2 separate regions of the Homo sapiens genome follow, and region 2 is linked to region 1. Evidence: fine-mapped expression QTL. Tissue or cell type: whole blood. Region 1 holds a variant in brackets; the other region holds the start of a gene. All regions are shown on one strand. Distances are from middle to middle.

Region 1 (2,755 bases):
AAGGGGCTTTGGGTTCAGATGGGCAGCCAGGGGAAGCGAATGCGATACCACCCTGGGCTTCCTCTGACGGCCATGGACCTGCTGGGCATAGACAGGAGGTGGGAGGGGCAGAGTTGGCCTCACCTGGCCCTCCAGGTGAGGGCTGGCGTCAGTTACCGGCCAAGGCCTCTGGGTGGCTCCTGCTGCCCTTGGCTGGGACACCACCCCTCTCCTGCCCCACACCCTCCCTGCTCCTTCTCAAATGTCCGCCTTCCTGGCAGCTGAGGGCCAGCGAGCAACTGGGCCAGGAGGGCCTGGAAACGCCTCTTCTCCTCATTCTACTCAAGATGGCTCTGGGGACAGAAAAGGACCCCTCTGTGCCCCAAATGTTGGGAACAAGGGCAGTGCTGGTAATAGGCTCACATTTGCACAAGGCGGGTCAAAGTTCCGGGCCGTGTGTCACCTGGGGGCTGGGCCAAAGGGGGCGCATCTTGCTGTGACATGGTGAAGGTGGGCAGGGTAGACCCGACGCTGAGGTAGGGGAGCGGGGCAGCGGGCTCCTCCTTCCTCACGTCCTATACTGTGCGGCGGCCCCTGACTTGGCCCCCTCTCCCTGGCTCTGTACTCCCAAACGTCACGTTGCGCCCCTCCCGTGCGCCCTCCAGCCAGGGTGGCCCGGCCTTGGCCGTTATGACGCCAGGGGAGCCGTTTGGCCGGCTCGGCCTCGGGTGATGGGAAGTTTCACTGCCCGGCCCTGTGGCCTGCGTTCTGTCTAACGCAGCTGTCTGTGCAGCTCCCGGGAGGGGTGAGAACAGCCAGCCACCTGGCTGAACTTGCTGGGAACCGACGTCAGGAGCAGGAGCTAGGCTGCAGTGGGCCTCACGGGGGCCTGGACGGGGAGAGCGGCTCCGTGGGCTCTGGGGCCTTCCCTCTCCACGCAATTGCGATCCCAGTGATGGGTGGGACAGAGATCCCCGTTGTCCCTGTCACCGCTCCCGCCTCCACTTGCCGGGCCTGAGGACAATTGAGGGGCTCTGCGAGCCCTGGGCGCCCCCCCAGCCCAACCCTCCTCCCTGGGGCCCCGCCGGCCCCCAGGCCTCCCCTGGCCTGGCCTTCCTTGCTGAGGGGGCGGGCCAGCGGGAGGAAGTCATCCGCTGTATTGTCGTCTTAATGCCTGTGCGATGAGGTGTGAAATTCTATGTTCCCAAAATTTGTTATCAGCCTCGCTCCTGTCCTCCGGAGCGGGCTGTGCGGAGGCAGCCGGGAGAACAGTCGGCTCCGAGGACAAGAGTGATGGGAGCGCCCCGGCCCCGCGGAATCCATCATTCCGGAGGGAACCTTCGGCAGGCTTCATTAGGCTCGAAACGATCATGAATATCCTCCCCTCACCTGTTCTCATTAATAATGGCTCCCCTCTTATCTTTTTTTTGCCACACGTATCATTCTTTTAAGAAACATACACAACCCAGGGAGAAAGCCCGGCGCCTGCCCGGGAGCCCAGCCGCAGCCTCTGCGTCCCGCCCCTCCTCCCCAACGCGCGCC[G/C]GCAGGGGGCGCGGCGGGCTCGCCACGGAGAGCGGGAGCTGGGGCCGCGCAGGGCGGGAGTCCTGCCCCTGGGTGGGGGGGACATGGGGCTGGGACTGCGGGCCGGGTAGACCACCAGGTGGGGAAAGTCAAGCCTTCTGGAACCTTCCAGCCCCGCGAAGCCTCCCCGATCCCCTCTGGCTGTGCTTTCCCCTGAGACAAATGCTGGCCTTCTCTAACCGTTTGCCTGTTTCGGTTCGTTTTATAATTTATTTTATTTTATTTTAATTAATTAATTTATTTATTTTTGAGATGGAGTCTCTCTCTTTCACCCAGGTTGGAGTGCAGTGGTGCAATCTTAACTCACTGCAACCTCCGCCTCCCGGGTTCAAGCGATTCTCCTGCCTCAATATCCCAAGTAGCTGGGATTACAGGTGCCGGCCACCATGTGTGGATAATTTTTGGGTTTTTAGTAGAGACGGGGTTTCCTCATGTTGGCCAGGCTGGTCTCAAACTCCTGACCTCAGGGGATCCACCTGCCTCGGCCTCCCAAAGTGCTGGGATTACATGCGTGAACCGCTGCGCCCCCGCCAGTTTCTTTTTATGTTAAAAGTGGTTTCAATTATAAAATAGATGGCCCTCTCTTTTGAAGTGCAAAGCAGGTAGTCCTCCCGTTGGGGTTCCCCAGCCACTCCCAAAGCCCAGCGCCAGTCAGTTTCTCCTGTGATCCCCGGAAGCGTCTAGGCATGTGCAAACAGATCAATAGGAAAGGGGATCTTGTATATATTCTTTTTCACTTTACATACATGAGTTCGTTTTACACACACTGTTCTGCAACTCCTTTTTGTTAACCTCACGATGTAGGAGATATTCCAAGCGTAATTTTCCCTGTTTTATACAAGAGCCTAGGGGAGTGAGGCTTTGGGGAGCTTCTCCTCCTGGCTTCTCCTCATGGCTTTCTTCCTCCTGCCCCTCCTCCACGTCCCCAGCCCCCCATTTCTGCCTTCCTTGCTGCTCCACTTGGCCTAGCCATGACCTCTGTGTGGTCGTCACTGTCTTGTGTTCTTGCTTCTGTCGTGGCCGCCAGAGTGACCGCACTGCAGCTTTTTAAAGCTCTGACCTTGTCTTTCGTCTTCTCAGAGCCTGTCTGAGGCTCCCCAAAGACATTGCCCAGCGGCCTGGCATTCAGGACCCCAGCTGGGCAGCCCTGCCGACCTTCGGCCTCCTCAGGGACAGCTGCTCCCCTCACTCTGCC
Region 2 (2,755 bases), 120 kb after region 1:
GAAGTGCGGGGGAGCGATTCTGACTTGATGCCCTCGGCGGGGCCTCTCTGCTGTCCTCTTTGGGGCCCCTTGCTCATCCTCACCTGCTTTCTGTCACCGAGCACTCCATCCTTGTCCTCCTGGCTGCCACCCACCTGTCACCCTAAGATAGATCCTCGGTCCCTTTCAACAGCATTTTGACCTTTGCGAGAGGACATTTGATTGACGGCCCTGCACGCTCTGCCACTCAGAGCCGGGCAGAGCTGCCGAGGGCTCCCACCTGTTAGGGATTAACTCCCATGTGCCAGCTCCGGAGCCGAGGCCGCGGCAGGGCTCGGCGCAACATGTGTCGCTGCCTGTTTTTCGGGGCGCTGGGGCTCTTTCAAAGGGCATGTGTGTGGGGATCACCCCAACTTTGAGGGGTAGCTCAGGCATCTCCACATGGGACACAGTCCGCCCTCTAAAAGTACTTTCCTTAGAGGGCACGGCTCCTGTCTGGATTCTTATTACAACCCTGGTGTGTGTGGTGGGGGGTACCCCTGGTTAAGGTGGAGGAAGCGGACCCAGTGGAAGAGGAAGGGGCATAGCGGGTTCCGCGAACATGAGTTGTAAGCGGCAGAGCCCGGGACTCCACAGCCAGGGTTTTCTGACTCGGAGACGCGGAGCTCTGTCTCCCATGTCAAAGAGAACCAGTCAGAAACGCACGGGTGGGCTGGGAGGGGGTGACAGCCTCTGGCTTACATCTGGGAACCAGTTATGTCGCCCGGGCATTTTATTTTCCTGAACAATAAGAGAAAGCATGATTTTCTTTCGCTAAGCCCGCATCCTCCGATGGATGTTCCGAAACCGCCAGGTGTGGGATCTGCGCCCCGACAGCCCCACCTTGGCCATCGGCCGCCTGAGGACGGCCAGCCATCGGGGCGATTCCCCCCACACATTGTGCCTGAATTCACCCTGCCTGGCGAGCCGGGCTCACGCAGGGAAAAAGCACCCGCGACCACAGGGTGTTGGTCATGGCGGCCAGGGGCACTGCGGCAGAATTTTTTCCTCCCTTCTTTGCTGCAATCTGGGTGCGGCTAGAGCAATTTGTCATAGAATCTGGGGGGCTCATTTTTCCGGCCAATCACTTTTAGAGAAATGAGCGCATTGCAGCAGAATGCGCTGACGTCAGAGACCACCCCTTCTGCGCCTCCATATAAACCCCACCCAGCCAGCCCCTAGCGCAGACGGCGGAGAGCAGAGAGGGAGCGCGCCTTGGCTCGCTGGCCTTGGCGGCGGCTCCTCAGGAGAGCTGGGGCGCCCACGAGAGGATCCCTCACCCGGTGAGTGGTTGGCCATCCTTGCCGCAAAGGATGTGCAAAAGGAAGACGGCATCCGCTTCTGGGATGGGCTCTGTCCTCCTGGACATGCCGAGAGCCTGCCTGATCCTGGGTCCTGCTGCTGGAGGCGGCCACTTCGCCTGGTCCCCGAGCGTCCGCAACAAAATTTGTCAGAAAGAAAATCTTGAGGCACATTTCCCTGGGGGGAAGTCAGGGCTCCTCTCTGGAGGGTCCAGTCCTTAAGGGTGGGCTGGGTGGTAGGGACTTCAGTTCAGAGGAGCGGGAGGAATCAGATGGAACTCCTCTTGGATTCGGGTATACGGCAGTCACTGGGGGGCGAACCCCGGATTTCCTGTATTAGAAGCCGCCTCTAGAATCGCGTTAATAGTGGGAGATATGGCGGCGATGCCTTCTGCGTGCCCCATGAATTAGGGGGGGAAGCACCCGAATAGAAGGGTCTCCCGGGCATATTTGCCTCGCCAGCTGTTGGCCAGGTTTTTGGTGGATCGTGGGCGGGAGGAGTGGAGGTTCCTCTTCGCGAGGTTTTCCGAATCCAAATACACAGGTTTAGTGCAGTGTGGACCCCAGGCAAAATGTGGAGTAAAATTTCTACCCGATATCATCTGGTTCTGCCCTGATCAGCCACTTTCACAGTGGAGAGAGATGGCGCCCAAGTGCAAACCTGCCAGTAGCCCCCTAGGATCAGTCCTTGCCGAAGGGGGGTCGTGGGATTGGGGGCACTGGGAGAATAGATGCAGGGGGTGGGTTGGGGAGGAGAGAAGGCCGTGTCCTTGGGTCTGGGAAGAGGGAGGAGAGAAATGCAGAAAAGGGGGTGTGTTGCTGGGGTCTGGACGCTGGGAGCTGGGGATGGGGTGCCGCGGGGGTCTTCAGAGCGTTGCGTGGTGGTCGCTCGAAAATCCTGACATGTTGCAGTCTTGGACTTTTGGTCAAATCGCCTTTTGCCATTTCCTTTGTCAGAGTCAAGCCCCCCCAGGCCGCCCCCTCCCACCCTGGGCCGGCGGGCCTGGTGGGGGCGCAGGCGGGTGGCTACGTGGCAGGTTTCTGGAAGGTTTCCTGGCTGGCCGCGAGAGGGCGCTGGCGGCACTGCGGAATTTTGGGGGGCGGGGTGGGGAGGGGAGGTGGCCTTTGTTCTCCTGATGGAGGGGGTCGGGCGCGGGATCTACTGGAGGATCCTGGATTCGTTTACCCAAGAGGGAACAGTTTTGAGACCCCCCGGATTCACTGCGGAGTGGCCGCAGAGGCCGGGGTCGGCCTTTGCGCCGTGGCTTCGGGTGTTGTGGAGGCGCACAGAGGCACGTTAGTTGATTTCCAGTGGTTTTTGGTTTCGGGGGTCTTAGGAAGGTGTGGCTCATTTGAGCAGGATGGAGAGAGAGGCTGTGACAAGGTCAGTGAGGGGCCATCGTGCGGGGGCTAGAAATTGTTGTTGTGGCGAAGGA

The links. PIP is the estimated chance that this variant, and not a neighbour inherited with it, causes the effect.
Region 2: MEG3 starts here. The variant in region 1 is fine-mapped to the expression of MEG3 in whole blood (TOPMed, PIP above 0.99).

What each region holds. Positions count from the first base shown.
Region 1 is chr14:100,708,354-100,711,108 of GRCh38, forward strand. It overlaps LOC105370669 (a long non-coding RNA gene), which reads left to right and starts at 714. Exons shown (of 2, transcript XR_944211.1): 1 at 714-784; 2 at 1,201-1,398. The variant G/C (reference allele first, on the strand shown) is at 1,522.
Region 2 is chr14:100,824,917-100,827,671 of GRCh38, forward strand. MEG3 (maternally expressed 3) reads left to right here and starts at 1,202. Exons shown (of 10, transcript NR_190993.1): 1 at 1,202-1,301.